Linked DNA regions of Homo sapiens. The protein of the gene in region 4 purifies or fractionates together with the protein of the main gene of each other region. This does not show direct contact. Each region holds a gene or a part of one and is shown on either strand. Other genes may lie near its edges.

Region 1 (3,500 bases), on a different chromosome or scaffold from region 4:
ATTATTTAGATCCATAACAAGACTCAAATCTCAAGAGGTTCTGGGGGTTGACACAAAATGTGACATGTGATGATATGCAATACATACCAAAAAACTGCAGGATTTGGCCAATTTATGTTAATGGAAAGCTGGAAAATACATATCCCAGAATTACCTTCCCTGTATGGTTCTGCCTTAGAGCTAGGCAAAAGAAAAATGTACACAACACTTAGAAGACAGACAAAAAGCAGCAGCTGTATGTTCTGAAGGTCAGGGTGGCCTAAGGTAATGAGAGGCAGGTTTAGTTTGTACTCATTTTTCTTTTTCCTTATTCTATTCCTTATTCCCCTTCCCCACTCCACATCCAGCTCTTCTTCTCAACTGCCAGCACTGCTGACTAACAGCAATCCCAGGCCCACCAGAAACTTGACTAAGAACTGACAAATGTGGTAGCTATGTGCACTGACTTCTTTATCAGTCCACCTTCACAGTGTCATGCCAGAAGCTAGGTATTAACAGTCTTTATGACTTCACGGTAGATCTGCAGGGAAAAGTTTTACACTGCATACTTTAATTCTTCCATTTTCACGTCTTATAATGAATATTTATAAGTTTTATAAGCAGTTAAATAATTTAAAACATTTCAAGCAATGCTCCCTAATTTAGAACACTCTTAGTTCCCTGGGGAAAATAAATAAAAGGAGGTTTTTCATCGTAAAAAAAATTTAAAAAGACTTACATCATTAGATTGAAACAATCGCGTCATTGCAAAGAAGGCTTCTGTAGCTTCCGTTGTTCCAAAGTGTTCACCCTAAGTAAAATTTAAAACAATTTTTAAATTTTAAAAAGTGTATATTCATATATATGTACATATACACACACAGGATTTTCTATTTCTGCAAAAATCCTTTAGAACTCAAGAAAAAAGAATCTCTTTGTAAACATTCTGCCTCTGCAATTTTTCTGGCTTTCAATGCATAAACCCACATAGCCATTTATCCCCCCTTATTTAAAATAATTCAGTATCGCATACCATGCTTAAAAGTTCTGGCATAGTGATCTCTAAACTTTTAGTAGAAAGTATCTGAAATTTTCCTGAAGTATTGTAGTTTACAAGGAGGGAGAAAATTACAGCACTCACAATAGGACATTATTATTACACTGCCTAAGAGCAGAGATCATATCTATAATGCCCAGCACAATGCCTAACATGTCATGGGAGCATAATAAATATTAAAATATAAGGAACTATCTATTCAGAATCTCAGCAAAATGGCAAGAAGGGGACCAACCAAAAGGGCAGGAACCAGATTCATCATATTAAAAAACTAGGCTTAAGGGGCTGCTATGTAGCTCAATATTGGTTCAAGCCCCTAAAAACATGCTTTGGATCAGAGCTTCAAACAGTTTAATGAGCATGACAATTCATCCTGGGATCTTGCCAAAATGCAGATTCTGATTCAGTGGCTCTGGGGTAAAGCCTGAGATTTTGCATTTCTTTTCTTTTTTTTTTTTTTTTTTTTTTTTTTGAGACGGAGTCTCACCCTGTTGCTCAGGTTGGAGTGCAATGGCGCAATCTTGGCTCACTGCAACCTCCACCTCCTGGGTTCAAGTGATTCTCCTGCCTCAGCCTCCCAAGTAGCTGTGATTACAGGTGTGCACCACCACGCCCAACTAATTTTTTGTTATCTTTAGTAGAGACGGGGTTTCACCATGTTGGCCAGGCTGGTCTTGAACTCCTGACCTCGTGATCCACCTGCCTCGGCCTCCCAAAGTGCTGGGATTACAGGCTTGAGCCACTGCGCCTGGCCTGAGATTTGGCATTTCTAACAAGTGATGCAAATGCTGATCTGGGAACTACATTTTCTGAGCAGTGAAAAAGTGTTAGATAACGTATTTCAAAACATCTCAAATCATAGATTACCTCAAATATTACCATTTCAATATTTAATGTCTTCACTAAAAGCAATCTTATATAATACGTTACACTCAATCACTTTTCAGAGCTTCAGATTCCACATAAAATATAACTAGTCTTCAATCTATTTGCCATAGGTATAAGAATAAATTTTGGTGAAAAATACTGACAGTTTAGGATAAAAGACAAAGTACAATAAGTTTATACTTACTTAAATCAGTGTATCCAGCCTGCTCATCAGCATGAGATTTATCTTTCTTTCACAACTATTTACTGAATACCCAGAAGTCTGTGTGCTTTTTAGTTATACAGGAAAACCTTACATCCTACTTTTTTACTTGAAACTCAGAAAACACATGGATATGTCAACTCTCATAGAAATTCAAAAGTATCTTTCTATAAAGCTCTACCAAGTTCTAGGCAAAGAGATAAAATTTATGTTCCCAAACCTGTTTATATAGTTAATTGTGTTTATGCTGTGCTTGGTAATTTCCTTATCAAGATAATTAAATGTTTCAACATGAGTTGCCTCATTGAAGAGGTAATGACCAACATAAAAATACATGTTACTCTCAATCAACTTTGACTATTCAAAACTTTTGTTTATACAATGGATTTGGCCAACTTAGACACAATGTGTGCTATGAAAAGTTAAACCCAATTGACTATGCTTTAAATGTTTCTCATATGCTGACACAGAGGGATTATGTTGTTTGTGAACAGATATATTTTATTTAAAACTATGTGTTTGATGATCAGGCACAGTAGCTCACACCTGTAATCCCAGGACTTTGGGAAGCTGAGGTGGGCGGATCACCTAAGGTCAGGAGTTTGAGACCCACCTGGCCAATATGGTGAAACCCCGTCTCTACTAAAAATATAAAAATTAGCCAGGCGTGGTGGTGCATGCCTGTAATCCCAGCTACTCAGGAGGCTAAAGTAGGAGAATTGCTTGAACCAGGGAGGTGGAGGTTGTAGTGAGCCGAGATTGCGCCACTGCACTCCAGCCTGGTAACAGAGCGAGACTCCATCTCAAAAAATAAAAAAAATCTATGTGCTTGTTGCTTAGTCTTCATTTGTAAACAAGAAAACTTTATTAAATCTCTGAGTGAGGTCTTCAGTCACAAAACAAAGTAAAGATAATATATTCTCTTAGAATTCAAATTGGAAACCATGGTTATCTTAGCACCATATGTAAACCACCTGAGGTATATGGTATATATGTATGTTTTATGTGTCCGTCTGTATGTGTATAGACATATATAGTCAGCCCTCCATAACCATGAGTTCTGAATCTGTGGATTCAACCAGGCTCAGATTGAAAATATTCAAGGAAAAAAAAAACTATGTTTGTACTGAACACGTACAGATGGTTTTTTGTCATTATTCCCTAAACAATACAGCACAACAACTATTTACACAGCACTAACATTGCACCAGGTATTGTAATCTAGAGATTATAGTCTAAGTATTATAATCACAGAGACAACTTATATATGGGAGGATATGTGTAGGTTATATGCAAATACTACACCATTTGTATGAGGGACTTGAGCATCTATGGACTTTAGTATCCAATGGAGGTCCTGGAACCAATTCCCCA
Region 2 (3,500 bases), on a different chromosome or scaffold from region 4:
TTACCCCATGACCCAGCAATACTACTCTTCTAACCAAAATAAAGGAGAAACTACGTCTACAGGAAACCTGTATGTGAATATGCCCAGTAGCATCATTCACAATAGACAAAAAGTAGAAACAACCCAAATGCCAATCAACTGATGAATGGATACACAAAATGTGATACATCCATACGATGGAATATGATTTGGCAATAAAAAGAATAAAGTACTGATGCATGCTATGACATGAACCTTGCTGTGTATTTGTTAGTATACCAAATATACTAAGGGGAAGAGGCCAGTAACAAAGGACCACATACAGTATAATTTATGTGAAATGTCCAGAATAGGCAAAATCCTTAGAGGCAGAAAGTAGGTTAGTAGTTTCATAGGGCTGGGAGGATTCTGGGGGTGGGGAGTAGTTTGCATGTATAATGAGTATGACTGGTAAGGGGCATAGCATTTTGGGGGTAATGAAAATGTTCTAAAATTGATTCTGGTGATGGGCACACAACTATATGAGTACACTTAGAGCTATTACATTGTATTCTTTAGGTATGTTCCATCATATGTAGATTATATCCCAATAAAGCTGTTATTACACATAGAGTAAGAAAGAGAGAAGTGAAGTGGATGAATCAAGAATTTAGCAACCACGTTTTGTTGAATGAAAGAGGATGAATGAGTTAATAACTACAGGTGACTAGATTGGTTTTGCGCGTCTTTACAGCCAACCTATCAGAATACTAAAAGAGCAGGGACAGACAAGAGCATCTAGACAGGCTCGTTCCTTACACTATCATCTAGAGAGGGGATCAGCAAACTACTTTTGTAAAGGGACAGAGAACAAATATTTCAGGCTTTACAGAAGACATATAGTCTCTGTCACAAATCTTTTTTTCTTACAACCCCTTAAAAATGTAAAAACTGTCCTTAGCTCCAAAGCCATACGAAAACAGAATACTGGCTGGATTTGACTCACAGGCCAGTTTGGCAACCTTTGTTCTAGAGAGCATATGTCACCTCTTACATACCCTTTTGTGATGGACAGTGGACTAGACCTGACAATGGCTGAGTCAGTAATCTTGCCAGAGATATGGAAATACTTAATTGACAGCTTTAATAATCAATAGAGGAAGATCAAAGAACACGAACGTTGTGAGTGCCATATCCCCCTAGCTTCCTACAGTTTAAAACTACCTGGCCCGAGTCTAACTTCAGTCTTTCTTGCTATAATGTCATGTCTTTTTTTTGCTCTGAAGTCAGAGAAAAGAGTCACCTATCCCCGTATCCCCCAACTCTTATACTCTGGGTCTAAATAACGGGCCCAGAGGCTCATCTCCTGCCCCCCACACTTCTTACCATTAAGGCAGCGCCTACGATACTTATGGTAGACGTGTTGTGTGAAGCCATTTTCCTTGAGCAGTTCATGGGAAGGATGCTGGAACTTGGGCAATGACTGAGGGGTACAGCCATAGCTGCCAACTGTAGGCGTCCCTTCTGAGGGGCTGGAGCTACAGAAACCACAAAAAATACTGTCACCAGGTTCCCCACAGCAGCCCCACCATGTCAGGAGGGGTCCCTCTGATCCGTTCTGTCAGCCAAGATCCATCCTCTCACAGGGTATCAAACAAGGAGGCCCAGTTACGGACCTTTAACTTATATCCATGGGTCTGATTAACTCTGCATCAACTCTCAGAGAGTTTTACAGAGGATACTGAGGCTTACAGAGATTAGGAGACTCATCCAGGGTCATAAGACTATTTAATGGCAGAAACGTGTCCAATGATAAAACTTGAGCTTTTAACCATTTATTAACTTTAAGCATTTAACCTTTTAATGAGCCATCATGGGTCAATCCATCTACAGTGAACCCTTGAACAACATGGGTTTGAAATGCATGGATCCACGCGTGGGTCCACTTATACGCAGATTTCTTCCACCTTTGCCACTCTTGAGACAGCAAGACCAACCCCTCCTTCTCAGCCTGCTCAATGTGAAGACCATGAGGATGAGGACCTTTATGATGATTCCCCTTTGCCACTCGAGAGAGCAAGACCAACCCCTCCTTCTCAGCCTGCTAAACATGAAGACCACGACGATGAAGACCTTTATGATGATTCTACTTCCACTTACTGAACAGTAAATATTTTCTCTTATGATTTTAACTTTTATTTTAGGTTCAGAGGTATGTGTACAGGTTTGTTAAGTAGGTAAACTGTACCTCACTCTCCTCCCTCTCCCCACCAAGTAGGCCCCAGTGTTTGTTGTTCCCTTCTTTGTGATTTTCTTAGTAATATTTTTTATTTAGCTTATTGTAAGAATACAGTATGTAATACATATAATATGCAAAACATGTGCTAATTGACTATATGTTATTGGTAAGGCTTCTGGTTAACAGTAGGCTTTTGGAGAGTCAAAAGTTATACACGGATTTTCAACTGTGTGCAGCTGGGCACCCCACGCCCTTCGTTGTTCAAAGATCAATTGTATATTTTCTTCAAAAGCATGCCTATTTGCAGTCTGTGCCATCTCTGCAGGGAGTAGAGAGCATTGGTCATAGGTAGGTGGCTCTCAAAGCTTGCTTTGGGAAACAGGAAACACACACTGGGGCCATCTTACTGAAATAAATAAAAAAGAGTGTGGGCCCTACCCCAAGAAGCAGGGTCAGCAGATACAGGTTGGGGCCAATAAATATGTATTTTTTTAATTTTTAAAACTTTTCAAGTAGCCTCCCAAGACATAGTAGGCTCAGAGAGACTGCCAGAAATCTGTTTATTCAACTACCTGGCTATTCTTCCTCAGACAGAAAGTAGATAGCCAGGCTTGGAAACCAATTCAGAGATTTTCTCTCTGCATGTATGAAAATCTGGTCTCACGTGACTGCCACACCACTTCTTTAGGAAAAAAGCCTACCCGTCATTCCCAGGTCCTGGGCTGAGCTTTCCACACCACTGGTTTTTTGAAAACCTCTTAGATGAGGGTCCCTTTAATTTTCAGACCAATCTTCTTGGTCCAGTCAATTTCATGGCTCGCCCACCCATCCCATAGGCAGCCTGATCACTCTTCCCCCACTGCCCCAGGTACCTGATGGAAGCAGTACGGGGCCTGTGCTCACGGGAATCCATCACCCAGCCCACATGGCTCTCCAAGGGTGGGTTTGAACTGTGTCTTGTCTTTCTTTTTCGAGGCATCTGCAAAGGTTAGCCCAGGGTTTGTTACTGTTTGTACTCCTACAACTCTGAGGAGCATCAAGCACTTGTAGGACTAAGATGGGCATGATCTCTCACATTTTACAACAGCATTTTCATATTCATTCTCGTATAAAGTTCACAGTGGTGAGCTAGGAACTGGTATGCCTATTTCAAACAGGTGAAGAAATCAAGGTTTGGGAATGCAGTGATTTGCCCAAGGACTCATACCTGGTCAATCCTCCTTAGGCCTTTCAACATGGGGTTACCACTCCCACACCCAGTATATTTTGCAGATGTGGCTACCTAATCCTAGGTAAGCCCACC
Region 3 (3,500 bases), on a different chromosome or scaffold from region 4:
CACGCCTGTAATCCCAGCACTTTGGGAGGCCAAGGCAGGCGGATCACGAGGTCAGGGGATCGAGACCATCCTGGCTAACAGGGTGAAACCCCATCTCTACTAAAAATACAAAAAAATTAGCTGGGCGTGGTGGTGGGCGCCTGTAGTCCCAGCTACTCGGGAGCCTGAGGCAGGAGAATGGCGTGAACCCGTGAAGCAGAGCTTGCAGTGAGCCGAGATCGCGCCATTGCACTCCAGCCTGGGCGACAGAGCGAGACTCCGTCTCAAAAAAAAAAAAAAGAAATGATTGAAGCAATTGGGTGAGATAAGATAATTCATAGCGAATGGAGAGGAACAAGCTGAGAGCAGAAGCTTGAGGAACAGCAAGCCCTTGATTATTAGCTTGGGATGGACAGAGAAGGGTGATAGCTAAAAGGGATTTGAGGGATTATGAAATGATGAAAAAATACACACACACATTATATATGTACATTAGAAGATAGTAAAGACTTGAGTTTATTCATATGCTGAAGAGATGATGTTTAAGTCCAGTGGTGAGAAATGGGGCCTTTAGAGCTGCCTCTACCCTGGCCCAAAGGACTCTTGCAATTTGTCTGAATCATTTGAATTTCATGAGAGTGGACTGTGTGTGTGCTGTCTGTCAATGTCTACCCAGTGCAGCTTACCTACTAGGTGTTCATAATAAAGTGGTGATTATTGGCGGAGCAAGATCCTGGAAGAGGCAGGAAAATCTGAATCTAGATCCAAGAGGAAGGATTAACTTTGATGGGACAAGAGCTGGTTTGGGAAGAAAGTAAAAACTTGAAGTTTTGGATGCTTTGGGGAAAAGCTAGAAAGGACTGTTAGTGTTAATATAGAGTTAGGGAGTGAGAGAGAAAAGGAGATTGTAGTTGGGGCATATGGCAGAGGCTCCAGGTTTTTAGAAGTGGTACACTTCTGAGGGATAGGGTTTGGGCTGTCAGCTGTAATGGAATAGAGATAAAGATTTACTGGAGCTGGGACATTGGGACCCTGTGACTACAGCATATGAGAATGATTGTTGTTCTCATGGACACCGAAATAAACCAGGGACTGGCATGTAGGAGGAATATTTCAAGGCAATAAGGAGGAACTAGGAAAATGTTGCTAGCCTCTCCCTCTGTTTACCATACTTGTAGAATGTCAGCCTTTAGAAAACAAGTAGCTTTTTTTTTTTTACTCCAAAAGGCTACAGGGCTGCAGCAAGAGATAAATGGTTAGGTTGCAGGGCTGTGTGCCATGGATGTAGGGTGAAGCCTATGGACCCTTCCTGGTATAGTATTTCTGAAGGTATAACACAGAGAGGATTACAGAGGAAACCAATTGCATTGAAATGTGTTTTAAAAGTATTCTTAAGTTTGTCATACAGTAATTATGTGCTTCTTTATTAATACCTTAAAGACACAGCAGCAGGTCTGATTAAATAAATGCAGTGTAATGATGAACATAAATATCTTGATGAGCAACAAACTGTAACATGCTATAAAAATATCTGTGATTTGTATTGATACCAATTACAGGTACTACTAATGCTGTGGTTTTTGGCCTGCATTCATAATTGAAGGAACTAGTGAATTCCAGTTGGTTTGGTAAAAAGTAAATAATGTAATTTATTTTCCATCTAAGTATGCAGACACCCCATCATGTTCCCCCGGACAATATAGACCTCAGGTTAAGAACCCCTGACCACTAGGGAAAGCTATCAATGGATTATTTTGTGAGAGATTTGAAGATGCAGGGAAATCTGTTAATAACATGAGTTCCTGAGAGCACAGTGGAAGAAGAAAGAACATTAGGAGTTTGGGTCAAGGAACGTAAATCATGAATCATGGAATATTACAGAGGTACAGATGAGTTCTGTATTTTGGGAGGTGTATCCAAGATCCTCCAAGGAGGCCAAGGGTGAAAGCATAATCGAGTTAGCTGACCTCAATCAAGGTTTCAAAATGAACTCATTCTTATGGGGTCTAATCAGATGAGAGCTGCATTCTTGAAAGCTTGATTAGACTGTTAGACTTGCCTTGGCTCAGAAATCCAAATAAGAGTGGTCAGAAGTAACAAGTATGCCACCTAAGAAATCCTTGCTGAGATGTAGAGGGGACAGAGTTAGCTGATTCTGAAGACACTTGACTGTTAGAAACAACAGGAGAGCCCCTCTAGATGCAGCAAGAGCTTCAGACTCTTGCATGCTTCTTATGAGAATCTAATGCCTGATTATCTGAGCTGGAATGATTTCATCCCAAACCACACCCCTCAAGCCTCAACCCATCTGTGTAAAAATTGTCTTCCATGAAACTGGTCCCTGATGCCAGAAAGTTTGGGGATCTGCTGCCTTAGAGAATATATTTTATTTATTTATTTTTTATTTTATTTTATTATTTTTATTTTTTAGCCACATAAAAGGTAGCAGCACACTTATTTGGAAAACAATAATTTCAAAATCATCTCCTGAACTCAGAATCGATGGGTCAGGGTAGACACCCTAAGTAAACAGGTGAAATCTTCATTAATTGTTCACTTATTAAGTAAAAATTTAAATTAATTGATTATGTACAGCAGTGTTTTTCCACATTTCCCTGATAAGAATCATTTGGAGTACTCTGTAAACACAGCTTCACTGGAGATTAATCCCATCAAATTGATTTAGTGGCTCTGGGATGGGCCACAGTAGTTTGGAAATTTTTATTTTTACAAATGCTTCCTGATGATGACCAAATCCAAGGAAATTTGGGAAACACTGATCTGGAACATAACTTTCAGTTTTCCCTGCAGTTTTTAAGTCTTGAACGACTGATCATCCTAGAGATAACCCACTGAAAAGTCTTCTCCAATCCAGTTTTATGAAAGAAAACTCTAGAACATTTGGTTTGATAAAATTTTTCCGAAGCACCAGAAGTACTTTACTTTGGCTTTTTAAATTTCTGGTCCATCCCTTCTAGTTCATGTTTTCTTGAAGAATCCATCTTCTTTGAGTTGAGCCACAGCAATCTAATCTTTTTTTTAAATAATTGGTTTCTTATTAAAGGATTGCGACATTTAATAGCCGTTGCTTGCTTTTGTCTTTCTCCCTTCTCCCTGAAACTTGTTAAGAGATGCCTCAATATTCTGGCCTTTCCACCTTCAATCTCATACTGACCACGCCGTGTATGCCAGCCTGGATCTCATAGTTTTCTTTAACTGGTTCAACTCCCTTTGTTGTCCTGGTCAAGATAACATCTCCTTCTTCCAAGGTCATGATCTTAGAAACATAGTTGATGATGTAGGGGATGGAAAAAGTCATGGAGGATGTCTCACCCTCCTGTCTTGAGTTCGCCGTTGACCTTGAGCCAGAGCCTCAGATTGGGAGGATCAGGGATCTTCTCCTTGGGCACGAACGCGCTGACTGGGCAGGAGGCCATAAAGCTCTTGGCCAGAGTCCAAGGCAGCCCCTTCTTCTTGCACTCATCCTGCACGTCCCTGGCAGTAATGTCCAGGCACAGGGC
Region 4 (3,500 bases):
CAGGAACAAGAGAAAAATATATTTACAAGTCTGACAGAATCTGGATTTTGCACAATAATTTTATAACCCTACACTCTACCAGGCAATTCAAAAGTTTCATAAAACATAATAGTCAAGAGACGACTGTAATTGTCTAACCTCAAGCACCTCATTTTTCTTCATAGCCACTATCACTATTATATTTTCATCTGTAAACTTGTTTACTACCTGCTCCTTCATTAGCTCATCAACTCCAAGAAGGCAGGGGCCATTCACAGTCTGTTCGCTGTATCCCTAGCACAGTGCCTGGACACAATGCTTTCCAATATGTGCTGAGTAACACTTGATTTTTAAGAGTTCTCTCCCTAAATCTAAAGCACACTTTTTAAACTTTAAGAACTTCACATTTCAAAGACTCTGAAGAGAACACAATATGGTACTATATAGATTTTACAGAAACAACTCATCTTCAATATTCCACACAAAGTTATTAAATCCTAAACTGAAGTAAATCTTCCCTTAAAGACTACTTCCATAACTTTGTCATTTTGGTGAGTGATACTACTCTTCACCAAGATTCACCATAAACACTAGATTTTCCTTAACGATATTCTACTATCAAACTCATCTTTTTAATGACGTCTCTCCCCTTACTCTTCTTCAATGGCTCCCAATAGTTATAGGATAATATCCAAGCTCATTAATGTATTAAAAACTTCTTGATTCTATCTATCCATTAAGTTTTATCTGTTGGCCTTCCTTCCCACACTGTAAAGCCATACTAAACTACTTGTTATTTTAATGTACTCTCAAAGCTTTCATACCCTCTCCCAATTGGGGTTCTAACGAATGTCCTTACCTAGTTGGCCTAGTAAGTTGGGTCAACATTTATTTCACCTTTTTATTCCCTCCTGAGTCTCTCAGAGCGAGGCTACCTAAAATACATTACTCAGTTGTGGCACACATCATTCCCCATCGTTAACTACGTACAAATCTATCTTTCCATTAAAAGTCTAAGTTTCTGAAGATAGAGATGTTCTTGTTCGTAATGTTATCACCAAGAATTCGCACAGAACAACATATATTAGGTTAAAATAATACACATTACATTGAATAGTTCCACTTAAATCTACATAGACTAAGATAACTTGATATCCCAATTGTTTTAATCATTCTGAAATTCCTAAACATGCTTCTAAACCTTCTGGACAGAAAAGTGTTATTTTCAAACAATCAAGCTCACAGAACAAATAAGTAAGGGGTTAAAAGCATACCTTTTCATATAAATACATAGTTTCTCCAGCTCGGGCATCCATTTGAATGCTTCCCCAGAACCACTAGGTGAGAGAAAAAACATTTTAATAAACAGTTTACATTTATTTTATCAGAGAAGCTATTAATAGTGTTTTTAAAAACCAACCTCATTCTAGAATTACTTGCCTCTTGCTTGACAACATAAAGTTTCTTTGAAGGTTCAAAGGGAAGATCTTTTACTATATTCTCTTCAACTACAAGGTGAGTGCATCTTTCATCTCCAAGCGGTAAATATTTACCTCCTAAAAAGGAATGCACATAAGCATAAATAAGCCAAGCTACTTATTTCCAAACTCAAATTTTTTAAGAGGTATATTGACCAGGAAGTGATTAAGCAGGCCTAGGGACTAAAATAGATATAACTTTTACATTATGCTAAATTTTACCTTGCATTTCAGTCATTTCTTCCATATTGGTTTTCTCTTCATCTGAAAATCCCAGGAAACTTAAAATACAATCTTGAAATGGAGGAACTTTAAATTCATTTCTAAAGTCATCAACTGCTGCATAGAAATCCCTAAAAACAAAATACACTCTTCCAAAACCAGTTTAACTTAAATTCAAGTGTTAGGTATATCAATTTACAAACCTACAGTAATTTTCAAGGTCTTGGCATAATCTATCTATTGAAACTATTTAATATTTGGTCCTGAAATGCTCACAAAAACTTCAGTTTAAAAAAATGATGTGTCCTGTCATCCCAAAAGTAACTTCTGACAAAATGTGATCACAGATAAGCTTTACAAGAGATTCAAATTTTTTCTCTATTATTTGAAGATTTATATGTACTGTGTTCCAAGGCTTTCATGAAATCTAAAATAATGATAACTTTCATGAAATCTTAATTCATGAAGTGCCACAGCAAGAAATCATGCGCTTGGAAAACTAAGCAAAACAAGGCAATAAATTTCAAGCACCAATTAAAATGTAACCAGATAACACAAAATTTTAAAAATATGTAACAAAATCCAAATACACAGAATTATTTAGCTATTATCTAATAATTTCAGAATGTTTATAATAGCCAAAATTACTTCACAAGGTAAAATCCAAAGATATCAAAGATATCTTTCAATTTTTAATTTTTTATAATTTTTTATAACTTGTTCTCCCTAGATTTTATTCCTCAAGCTACTCAGACTGAATTCAGTTTTTATATCTATGAAATTACTTTTTTCAGCACATGGATTTATCTTTAAACCAGAATGTTTAATTTACATAATGAACTACTGAGTTTCTAAACACTTACTGTTCATTCCGCCTTTCCCAAGCTTTATAAATCCATTCTGGCTTCATAATTGGAGTACCTAGACTCACAGCAACCTAAAAATATAAACATTACAGTGAATTTTCTCCTTAAATAACTGCATTCAAGGAAGTTCTAAACAGTTAACATACTTAATTTTTTGCAGTTTTAGATCACTATCTGCTTTGTAACAAAATAATTTAAAAATTAACAGACAAACTATCTTCCAATCATACAAGTTAGGGTAAAATAACTTCAAAACAAGTTCCATGGTGTCCGAACTGTTTCCTTATTTTAAATAAATATATCTCTGAAGTTCATCTTTATTAAATTTCTATTTCTCCTTTCTTCACGTTTACTTCCTTGAAAGTATGACCCTCAAGATGGCACTACAGAAGAAGACATCCGACTAAGTCACTAAAACCTTAGATATGAGTTGAAATATTTAGGGTAAATTGAAGAGTACACTAAAATTACCATTTGCTACACAAATACACTAAGGGAGACTAAGAAAAAATGATAAACTCTTGCTAAGACATTCAACTATAATCTTAAACTAAGATTCAATCCTAGTGAGAGTATTTTCTCCTATTATAATATTCACAAGTTAAATCTTAGAACCACTTTATAAGAGCAGAGCTCTGTTCTTATGAAGGGCACTTAGACAGCCAGGCACAGTGGCTCATGCCTGTAATCCCACCACTTTGGGAGTCCGAGGCAGGCAGATCACCTGAGGTCGGGAGTTTGAGACCACCCTGGCCAATATGGTGAAACCCTGTCTCTATGAAAACTACAAAAATTAGCCGGGCATGGTGGTGCGCACCTGTAGTCCCAGCTACTCGGGAGGCTGAGGCAGGAGAATGGCGTGAACCCAGGAGGCGGAGCTTGCAGTGAGCCGAGATGGCACCACTGCACTCCAGCCTGGGTGACAGAGAGAGACTCAGTCTCAAAAAAAAAAAAA
Region 5 (3,500 bases), on a different chromosome or scaffold from region 4:
GGGCAACAGAGCAAGACTCGGTCTCAAAACAAAAAAAAAAGCCGGGTGCGATGGCTCACGCCTGTAATTCCAGCACTTTGGGAGGCCAAGGCGGGGGGATCACCTGAGGTCTGGAGCTCGAGACCAGCCTGACCAACACGAAGAAACCCTATCTCTACTAAAATTACAAAATTAGCAGTGTGTGGTGGTGCATGCCTGTAATCCCAGCTACTCAGGAGGCTGAGGCAGGAGAATCGCTTGAACCCGGGAGGCAGAGGTTGCGGTGAGCCAAGATCGCACCATTGCACTCCAGCCTGGGCAACAAAAGCAAAACTCAAAAAACAAACAAAAAACTATACTTCATGGCTGGGTGTGGTGGTTCAAGTCTGTAATCCCAGCACTTTGGGAGGCCGAGACAGGTAGATCGCCTGAGGTCAGGAATTCGAGACCACCCTGGCCAACAAGGTGAAACCACCTCTACTAGAAACACAAAAAATTAGCCAGGTGTGGTGGCGCACACCTGCAGTCCTAGCTAGTTGGGAAGCTGAGGCAGGAGAATCGCTTGAACCTGGGAGGCAAAGGTTGCAGTGAGCTGAGATCGCACCACTGCACACCAGCCTGGGCGTTAGAGCAAGACTCAGTCTCAAAAAAACAACTATACTTCTTAAAAATACCTTATCTTTTGATGTAATAATTCCATTTTAGAATCCAAATAAAATCTGGGGAGAGGGAATAAATTCCATTCATTTTATATGTATCTATTTAGAAAAAATAAAACTTCAATTCTTGATTAAAGTAAAAGGTGATCATCTAACAGTCATGTTCATTTAGTTATTATTCATATCAAGTAATATCCATGTGACATAAATCCACAGTATAAACAACTTGATCACTGACTTAAATTTTAGAGCATATATAAACTGTTTAATTCTAGGCCGGGAACAGTGGCTCATGCCTATAATCCCGGCACTTTGGGAGGCCAAGGCAGGAGGATCATTTCATGCCAGGAGCTTGAGACCAGCCTGGGCAACATAGCGAGACCCTCATCTCTATAAAAGAAACAAAAAACCAGTTAATTCCCCGTTTCTTTTCAGTGGTACTACTGAAGGCTGTTTCAGAACCGCAAAGCTGTTGGGAGATCCGAAGTGTATTTTGTAGGTTATCCTCCATATGACATTTATACAGCAACACAGCACTTCAGAGATAACCTAAGTCCAAAAATGTAACTGGTCACAGAACACTGCCCCAAGAAAATGGGGCAGAGGTTTAAACTTTTAGCTCATACAACTATAAACTTGTTAAGATTTAAAAACTACAAAGTAAGAGTCACACTGCACTTCCCAATCCAACAACTATAAACGTGGTAAAAAGAGAGAACTCACCACAATGAATACTAAGAATAATGAATATGGTAAAGAGTGGTCTATGTGGTTAAAAATTTAAAAACCTCTTTTTGTGGAAACTTACCAATCCAGAAACAGTGTTAACCACATCTAATGATTTAATCTTGGAGGTCGAATTTTTTTTAATTAAAAAATTGCTTAAAATGTTTGCATATTTCATAATAAAATCTTCTTTAAAAGATCTACTTAGTAAATCATGAAAACACTCCTCCAAATGATTTATGGCAATAATGAATCCAAATGACTCATTAGAAGACGGCATGAATAAGAAATATCTGTTTGAGCAGGACAAAAAGAAAAATAAAAACAGGAGGCACCAGGACCACCAAGTCCTGACAGATGCCAATCACCACCAACGTCCAGTGAGCTAGGGCAAACAGACAACCAGAATGAGTATAATAAATGTTACTGTATGCTTTCAACAGGGCATTCTAGTGTTAAGGCCAGGAATAATGCCAGAATGAAAACTTCTCTAGGAAGTTATAAATTTTGATAGATGCAGGATCACAGCTGCTCTGATACTAGACTTTCAAACATTTGCCAAGGAGAGCATATCAGAAACAAGAAACTTTAATTAGCTCTTGGGGGAGAAAAATCGCTCAACTTGAAGAGTAACTATGACCTTTCCAAAAGGTCAGTGAGGCATTAGCAACTGTAAGATAAGCTTCACACCTTGTTAAAGTGGGTATGAATTTCCCTCTTGGCAGTAAAGCCTGGGGAACAAACTTAAAGCAACATCCCCTGATAGCTAGAGCAAAGGGAAAGACAATGGCAAGCAGTGATGGGACCATCAGAGCAAACCTCTACTTTAAAATACTACAGCCCAAAATGAAGAACAACCATATCAGATCATGTCGGGCAGTCCTTCACAGTTCTGATCTATTGGTAAGAAAACCTCTTGCCTTGTGTAAGGAGAAAGAGGATTGACAACAGAAACCATGAGACTGGGAGGGAGATGGGGTAAGAGAAAGGGGAGGAAAACTGGATGAGTGACATTACTGAAACGCAAGATCCCTTACTGCAGTATTATAGTACTATAGTAATGTGAGTTCATAATTATGGTTTGCCAGAAGTTATACAAAGTATACTTATACAAGGAACTGGGAAAATGTTTCTAAAAATTTTGACAACAGGTTGAATATAAAGAATTATCTGTTTCAAGCCAGGAGCAGTGGCTCACACCTGTAATCACAGCACTTTGGGAGGCTGAGGTGGGCAGATCACCTGAGGTCAGGAGTTCAAGACCAGCCTGACCAACATGGCGAAAACCCATCTCTACTAAAATACAAAAAATTAGCCGAGTGTGGTGGTGGACGCCTGTAATCCCAGCTACTGGGGAAGCTGAGACAGGAGAATCGCTTGACCCCGGGAGGCAGAGGTTACAGCGAGCCGAGATCGCGCCATTGCACTCCAGCCTGGCTGACAAGAGCAAAACTCCATCTCAAGGAAAAAAAAAAAAAGAATTATCTGTTTCAGCTGGGTGAGGTGGCTCATGCCTATAATCCTAATGCTTTGGGAAAATCTCTTAAGGCCAGGAATTGGAGACTAGCTTGAGTAACATAGTGAGACCCTATGTGTATAAAAAAAAATTTTTTTTTAATTAGTTGGGCATGGCAGGGCATGCCTGTAGTCCTGACTACTCGGGAAGATTGCTTGAAACCAGGAGTTTGAGGTTATAATGAGCTATGATCGTGCCACTACTACATTCCAGCCTAGGTGACAGAGTGAGACTCTGCCTCAAAAAAAAAAAAAAAAAAAAAAAAGGGCAAAGCATGATGGCTCACACCTATAGTCCCAGCTACTTGGGAGGCTCAAGAATCAGGCTTCAGCCCAGGTGTCTGAGGCTGCAGTGAGCTATAATCGCACCACTGCATTTACCCGCTGGGCGACAGGAGACCCTATCTCCAGGAAAATTGAAAATTTTAAACAGTGTGTAAAAGGATTATCTGGGCTGGGTGAGGTGGCTCATGTCTGTAATCCCAGCACTTTGGGAAGCTGAGGCAGGCGGATCACCTAAGGCCAGGAGCTGGAGACCAGCCTGGTCAACATGGAGAAACCCCGTCTCTACTAAAAATACAAAAAATTACCCGGGCGTGGTGGTGCATGCCTGTAATCCCA
Region 6 (3,500 bases), on a different chromosome or scaffold from region 4:
ATCCCTGAGTGAGGCAGGGGCCTTGAGATGCTGCCAGAGTCCTCATTCTGTTTCACATTAGGCTTGCTGTCACTCCTGTTAAGGATCTCACTCTGGGAATTTCCCTTTTTTTTTGTTCTCCTTCTATTTGTTGGAATCCCTGACAGGCCTTTTGGGGGTTCTCTGGATATCGGTTAAGGCTAGATTAAGCTGAAGAAAACCTTAAACAACAAGTATCTTGTTCTGCCGTGGCTGCTTGAGCTCCAGCTCTGACCTCAGCATTCCATCTAGCCTGGAGGAGGAAGAGACATGTTTCTGACCTTTTATGGCACTCAACTTACATCCTATGAGCCAGAATTTAATGACATTGCCACCTAGCTGAAAGGGAGCCTGGAAAACATCTGTTTTAGGTAGTCTTGTGCTTAGCTAATGCTAAGGAAGGCACGCACAATGAGTTTGAGTGTTTATTATGTTCCAGACATCATGTTAAACTCTGAATCTCCTATTTAGTCTTCATCATAACCCGTAGGTGGGCCTTATTATTATCTCCATTTGATAGAGGACTGAACTGAGGCCCAGTGAGATCAAGTGATGAGCTCAGGTTCACACGCCTATTGCATGGAGGAGCCAGAATCCAGACTCGGGCTCCAGCTCCAGAGTCTGTATTCTTGGCTAGCTGCTTTACTCAATCTCACCTTCTCCCTCCTTAATTCCCTTTTCTCCACTCAGGTGAAAACCTCAGTAAAGAAAACCCAGGCCAAAGCCAACCCAGCTGCCGCCAGAGCACCTTCAGCAAAAGGGACAATTTCAGCCCCTGGAAAAGTTGTCACTGCAGCTGCTCAAGCCAAGCAGAGGTCTCCATCCAAGGCAAGTGGGGCCAGAAGCCACAGGAGGTGTGGAGGGTTGGGGTAGAGAGGAGGACCAGTCACTGAGCCCAGCCAGGAGAAGGTGCGTGCATGGGCAGGCCACCCACCCAGAGTTGTGCCATAGTGGGGAGTGGGACCTGAAAGGAATCACTTTTGCCTCCAATACTATTATCCCCCTGCAATTCAGGTGAAGCCACCAGTGAGAAACCCCCAGAACAGTACCGTCTTGGCGAGGGGCCCAGCATCTGTGCCATCTGTGGGGAAGGCCGTGGCTACAGCAGCTCAGGCCCAGACAGGGCCAGAGGAGGACTCAGGGAGCAGTGAGGAGGAGTCAGACAGTGAGGAGGAGGCGGAGACGCTGGCTCAGGTGAGGGGGAGGGAATGGAGATCATCCCCTACATGGGATGTAACACCTTTGCCACATCCAGCTCCTGTCTTCTCACACGTCCACCCTCCAGGCTCTCTCCTCTCATCCTGTTTCTCCCTCCAGGTGAAGCCTTCAGGGAAGACCCACCAGATCAGAGCTGCCTTGGCTCCTGCCAAGGAGTCCCCCAGGAAAGGGGCTGCCCCAACACCTCCTGGGAAGACAGGGCCTTCGGCTGCCCAGGCAGGGAAGCAGGATGACTCAGGGAGCAGCAGCGAGGAATCAGACAGTGATGGGGAGGCACCGGCAGCTGTGACCTCTGCCCAGGTAAGACTTGCCAGGCCTCTGAGCCACCAACACTCACTCCTCAGAACGGGGGTATAGGGCTGGGCGTGGTGGCTCACACCTGTAATCCTAGCACTTTGGGAGGCCGAGGCAGATGTATCACTTGAGGTCAGGGGTTCAAGACCAGCCTGGCCAACATGGTGAAACCCCGTCTCTACTAAAAATATAAAAATTAGCTGGGCATGGTGGCGGGTGCCTGTAATCCCAGCTACTCGGGAGGCTGAGGCAGGAGAATCCCTAGAACCTGGGAGGCGGAGGCTGCAGCAAGCCAAGATCATGCCACTGCACTCCAGCCTGGGTGATGAGAGTGAGACTGTCTCAAAAAAAAAAAAAAAGAAAAAAAAGAAAAGTGAAAAACCAGGGTTTAGGGCCAGGTAAGGAAAAGAAAGGAAGGCCAGGTTAAGGCTTAAGGCTCCAGTTCCACCATGCCCTCCTCCGTCTGCTGTCATCCACATCTCCTTAGGTAAAACCTGCTACTAAAACCCCCCAAACGAAGACTTCCGTAGCTAAAAGTGTCCTGGGTCTATATCTAGGTCGAGGTCTCCACCAGCTCTATAAGCTAGGCCAGTATTTCCCACCAAGGCATATGAGACCAAGAATCTACATGTTAGTTATTGTGCATACGTTAACGTTATACAAAATGACTCTCCCTGTCAGAGTCCCAGGGAAGCTTGGAGTGTGGCACAGGTCCCCCTGAGGTCCTGGAGAGATGGAGGAAGTCTCATCCTGCACCTTGGCCCGGAGCCTCACATAGGCAGGCGCATCTTCTCAGGCAGGGCTTGTCTAGCTTAGTGCAAAGCCTGGACCCTGGAGAGTGGGGAGAAAGAAAATCTGAACAATTCCCTCTGTCTGCTTGCAGAAGATAGCAGGGCTTGCTACATCCTACAGAAGTGTAGGATGACAAACTCCAGCACTGCCAAGGCACAGGTGTGTGATGGAAATGACTGATGCAGGCCTGGCAGGAATGATAGATGTCGGCCGGGTGCGGTGGCTCAAGCCTGTAATCCCAGCACTTTGGGAGGCCAAGGCGGGCGGATCATGAGGTCAGGAGTTCGAGACCAGCCTGGCCAACATGGTGAAACCCTGTCTCTACTAAAAAAATACAAAAATTAGCCAGGCGTGATGGCAGGCGTCTGTAGTCCCAGCTACTCGGGAGGCTGAGGCAGGAGAATCGCTTGAACCCGGGAAGCAGAGGTTGCAGTGAGCCAAGATCATGCCATTGCTTTGCACTCCAGTCTGGGCAACAGAGTGAGACTCTGTCACAAAAATAAAAAAAAGAGATGATAAATGTCAGGAGAGATGGTAGATAGTGGTAGCAAGTAGGGCAGACCGGAGAGCCCTTGCCCCATCCAGAGGGGCAGTTCTTATCAGCTTCAGCCAGTCATGACTGTGGAGATGGACCTTCTGTGTGGCCAGGTCTTCCATTTCTTAAGGGAAGCTGGAAGTCCCTGTGCCAGGCCAAGCTCCATAACCTCTTAGATTTGTTTTCTTCATGAGTAAAACAAGCACTGAGATGAATGCTCCCTAGCCCTAACCTCTGCCTTTGATACACCAAACCAACAATTACTGGGGGTGAAAGACATTGGCCCCACCCTCAAGGAGCTCACAGTCTGTGGGGCAAGACAGGTGACCGGATTATCGCAGACTATGCTAGTGGTGCTGACAGCTGAAAGAGCAGGTCTCTGAGAGGCCAGAAAAGGAGGAGATGATTGAGCTGAACCTGAAGGATGACCAGGCACAAAAGTGGAGAAGGCCCCTCAGTGTGTGCAGAGGGGCTGGGCATGAAGGCACATGGTCACTGAAGGCAGCTGTCCTGCAGGCCGTAGGCCCTCCCAGGTGCTTGTTACTGGTAGATTTATGGAGGACCTAAATGCCAGACTAAGACATAGGCCCCGGCCATATTTTGGGCTGTGTAGTTTTTTTGTTTTTAAGTTTTCAATGAGTTC
Region 7 (3,500 bases), on a different chromosome or scaffold from region 4:
AACCAAGTCCCGTATTATTAAGAATATTGTATTTATGAATAAGTCAACTTTAAACTACAAAATATCCCCCATACTAATAATATTCATTTCTTGGTTTCTAATATATACTTATACATAACTATATATGTACTTTATACATAGCTGTAATAACTTTTATGTACACTTTTGTATTTTTTTCACATATTTTTCCAGAGTCATTATGAAACTTTAGGGCCATTACACTTAGCATTTAAAATAGGTAATACATTCACATGGTTCAAAAATGAAAAAATACACAAAGTGAACTGTTTTCTCATCCCATTTCCCAACCACCAAAATCCTAAAGTAATAAATAAGTAGTCTAAATTTCAGGAGGAACGCCTCTGTTTTTCCATTAAATATAATGTCTGTTGTTACTCTTATCAAGGAGAATTAAAGACAGCTGGAAAACCTGTAAAACTTAAATACTTCCATTTTCACTGTTCTTGTTAAGAGGCTGCTCTCCTTTCTTGTCAAAGAAACTGCTAGTGTTATGAGAAAGAGAAGAATATCCTAACACGTACAGTACACACAAAAACTATAAAAACTAAGACAAATTTATTCAGCACCTGGTTCAGACATCTGCTTTGGTTTCCATTAATAGGATCTCTACTATCTGCCAGGCATAGCCTGTCTAAAAGGCAATTATTACCTGATCTTCATATCCTTCTATCTTCACAGGCGTGAACTGATCCATGTTATACTGGGCAAATGCACTGTTTTTTTTTAAAAGTTTTTTAAAAAAAAAAAAAAAAAGAGGGAGAGAGAAAAGAATTATGTGTAAATAAACACAAAAGGTGGTTCACAGAATAGTGAAAGGAAATGTGAAAATAGTACCCTGTACTTTTCCCTTCTCCCCAGACATCCAGTGTTAACATAATGCCTTCCAGCTTTCTGAAGGGACTCCTCTCTACGGAGATCTTGGAAGCTCCTTAAACTCTGAAATTACCTTTTCCTCTCTGCTCCTGAGCTCCAAAAGACCTTCTGCTTAGACAATTCCAAAGTTGGTTTGTTTTGAGATAGAGTCTCACTACGTTGCCAGGCTGGCCTCAAACTCCTGGGCTCAAGAGATCTTCCCATCTGTTTCCTGAGTAGCTGGGACTACAGGTGCACACCACCACACTCGGCTAATTCCAAAGTTTGAAGCAATCTAATTATTGTGAACTGCCAACAATTTTAATCATTTGGGCAGAAGCTTTCAGTAATTCAAAAGAATCCTCCATTGATACACTATTTTGGAAATGATCTTTTTTCTTGGCTCTCAAAGTCACGAGAAACTATAATTAAATGTCAGAAGGCATCTGACATGCGAAGAAGGTGAAGTGAGAGTTGAGCATGAGTCAAGTATAAAAGTAGAGCCTCAGGCACAAAGTAGTTATTTTTAAAAGAGGAATGCATAAATAATCAAAGTACATGCCTAATATTACTATTTGTCCAAAGCTTGATTTTTGAAATTCTGCATTTTTAATGGCTCTCTAATACATTTTACAAAGCTAAAGCAAAAGACAAGATAAAAGAAAGATGGAAATAAGAGCTACACTTATATTCTTAAAAAGTATCAGTCTTCTCACAGAATTCCCAATTTTAACCTATTAAAATAGACTGCTAGTTTTTTTTTTTCCCCATGTCAGACAGGTAATGTGCCAACATAACAAGGTTTGAGGGAGGCACATCTCACACATGCATGTGAAAACTCAACCATCACACTTATGAACTACAAAAGGATGGAGACCACTAGTTTTAAGCAGTGGTTAAAACTAGGCTTCTCAAGATAAAGCAAAGTAACAAACATTTAAACTTCTTCAAATATTTAAAGCTTTTTTTTTTTTTTTTTGAGATGGAGTTTAGCTCTTGTTGCCCAGGCTGGAGTGCAATGGTGTGATCTTGGCTCACCACAACCTCCACTTCCCGGGTTCAAGCGATTCTCCTGCCTCAGCCTCCAGAGTAGCTGGGATTACCATGTGCCACCATGCCCAGCTAATTTCTGTATATTTAGTAGAGACTGGGTTTCTCTATGTTGGTCAGGCTAGTCTCGAACTTCCAACCTCAGGTGATCCGCCCACCTCAGCCTCCCAAAGTGCTGGGATTACAGGCATGAACCACCGTGCCCAGCCTCTAAAGCTAATTTTCAATCTTATTTTGTTAAAAGTTGTTACTGTATACTTTGTGTATTTATTTTTTTGGGGGGTGGGGGTGATGCAGTCTCACTCTGTTGCCCAGGCTAGAGTGCTGTGGTACGATCTTGGCTTACCGCAACCTCTGCCTTCCGGATTCAAGTGATTCTCCTGCCTCAGCCTCCCAAGTAACTGGGATTACAGATGCGCACCACCACACCCAGCTAATTTCTGTATTTTCTTTAGAGATCGGGGGGAGTCTCACCATGTTGGCCAGGCTGGTCTCGAACTCCTGACCTCAGGTGATCCACCCACTTTGGCCTCCCAAAGTGCTGGGATTACAGGTGTGAGCCACCACACCCAGCCAAAAGTTATTACTGTGTTTTACTCCTTAAAACACCACATCCCCATGTAGCAAAATTAATCCCAAACACATTAGCTCTTCAGAAAGGATACAATTTATTCATAAAAAGTAGAATAAATGTTAGTTTAAAAAAAAACGAGTAGGAAGTAAATATTTTATTCTAGTATATGTCCTAAGACTATAGATTACCAACACCAACACCAAAATGTCCTTACCTTTAATTCCATCTCAAGTAAACAGCATCTCCATTTTACCAGCTGCCTAAGCCAAAAACTTGGGGTGATCTTTGATTCTTCTCTTTTTCTCACACTTCACATCCAGTCCATCAGTAAATCTTGTAGGCTCTACTTAAGTACATATTCAGAATCTGACTTCTTCCCACCACCCCCACTGCTACCACTCTAGTCCAACCAGTAGCATCTATCCCTGAACTATTCTCATTGTCTTGGAATTACTCATCTTACCTCAGCTTTTGCCCCTCTACACAGGAGCTAGTGATTATTCTAAAATATAAGTCTCATTATGTTATTCTCTACTCAAAACAATCTTACTTCCTATCTCTGTCAGAATGAAATTCACTCTTTAACATAACTTACAACACCCTATTTATTCCAGAAGCGCTGGAATTATCTGGGGATGGTTCTGGTGGCCAGAAACTGGTGGAAATCCAGGAAAGATGGTAAATCTTAGCTACTTCAAGCCCTTCATTTTATACAGACTGAAGGCAATAATTATGACAATGATTATGAAAACATTAATTGAGCAGTTACTATGAGGACTATGGCCAAGGGACTGAAATGCTTTAATACAGAAATAAAACTGAATTTTTCTTCTCTATGGAAAATCAAATATTTGGGTCCAGGAAAATTCTCTTAACAAGAGGGTTCCCCAAGAACCTATAGTCTATAAGAACCAGAATAGTTATAAATACAAAGCTTTAGTGTCAGTGCAATTAAAGAAAATGAAGTATCTGAACTACATACCAACTTCTCTTAATCTTAGCC

What was found.
Region 1: the proteins of ECT2 (region 4) and COPG2 purify together in Homo sapiens (affinity purification with mass spectrometry, with the first as the bait; 2 studies listed by BioGRID). This does not show direct contact.
Region 2: the proteins of ECT2 (region 4) and LARP1 purify together in Homo sapiens (affinity purification with mass spectrometry, with the first as the bait; 2 studies listed by BioGRID). This does not show direct contact.
Region 3: the proteins of ECT2 (region 4) and KIF23 purify together in Homo sapiens (co-immunoprecipitation; 3 studies listed by BioGRID and IntAct, with this or other methods). This does not show direct contact.
Region 5: the proteins of ECT2 (region 4) and ATP2A2 purify together in Homo sapiens (affinity purification with mass spectrometry, with the first as the bait; 2 studies listed by BioGRID). This does not show direct contact.
Region 6: the proteins of ECT2 (region 4) and TCOF1 purify together in Homo sapiens (affinity purification with mass spectrometry, with the first as the bait; 2 studies listed by BioGRID). This does not show direct contact.
Region 7: the proteins of ECT2 (region 4) and CAPZA1 purify together in Homo sapiens (affinity purification with mass spectrometry, with the first as the bait; 2 studies listed by BioGRID). This does not show direct contact.

Annotation. Positions count from the first base shown.
Region 1 is NC_000007.14:130,662,249-130,665,748, forward strand, and holds part of COPG2 (coatomer subunit gamma-2), read right to left. Parts: intron 791-3,500; coding exon 719-790; intron 1-718. UniProt on the Homo sapiens protein: The coatomer is a cytosolic protein complex that binds to dilysine motifs and reversibly associates with Golgi non-clathrin-coated vesicles, which further mediate biosynthetic protein transport from the ER, via the Golgi up to the trans Golgi network.
Region 2 is NC_000005.10:154,803,877-154,807,376, reverse strand, and holds part of LARP1 (la-related protein 1), read right to left. Parts: intron 3,177-3,500; coding exon 3,070-3,176; intron 1,497-3,069; coding exon 1,345-1,496; intron 1-1,344. UniProt on the Homo sapiens protein: RNA-binding protein that regulates the translation of specific target mRNA species downstream of the mTORC1 complex, in function of growth signals and nutrient availability.
Region 3 is NC_000015.10:69,431,349-69,434,848, forward strand, and holds part of KIF23 (kinesin-like protein KIF23), read left to right. Parts: intron 1-3,500.
Region 4 is NC_000003.12:172,760,726-172,764,225, reverse strand, and holds part of ECT2 (protein ECT2), read right to left. Parts: intron 2,617-3,500; coding exon 2,543-2,616; intron 1,811-2,542; coding exon 1,680-1,810; intron 1,536-1,679; coding exon 1,420-1,535; intron 1,317-1,419; coding exon 1,254-1,316; intron 1-1,253. UniProt on the Homo sapiens protein: Guanine nucleotide exchange factor (GEF) that catalyzes the exchange of GDP for GTP. Promotes guanine nucleotide exchange on the Rho family members of small GTPases, like RHOA, RHOC, RAC1 and CDC42.
Region 5 is NC_000012.12:110,287,747-110,291,246, reverse strand, and holds part of ATP2A2 (sarcoplasmic/endoplasmic reticulum calcium ATPase 2), read right to left. Parts: intron 1-3,500.
Region 6 is NC_000005.10:150,378,197-150,381,696, forward strand, and holds part of TCOF1 (treacle protein), read left to right. Parts: intron 1-708; coding exon 709-846; intron 847-1,032; coding exon 1,033-1,212; intron 1,213-1,335; coding exon 1,336-1,536; intron 1,537-3,500.
Region 7 is NC_000001.11:112,650,832-112,654,331, reverse strand, and holds part of CAPZA1 (F-actin-capping protein subunit alpha-1), read right to left. Parts: intron 1,745-3,500; exon of another isoform or gene 1,644-1,744; intron 735-1,643; coding exon 671-734; intron 1-670. UniProt on the Homo sapiens protein: F-actin-capping proteins bind in a Ca(2+)-independent manner to the fast growing ends of actin filaments (barbed end) thereby blocking the exchange of subunits at these ends.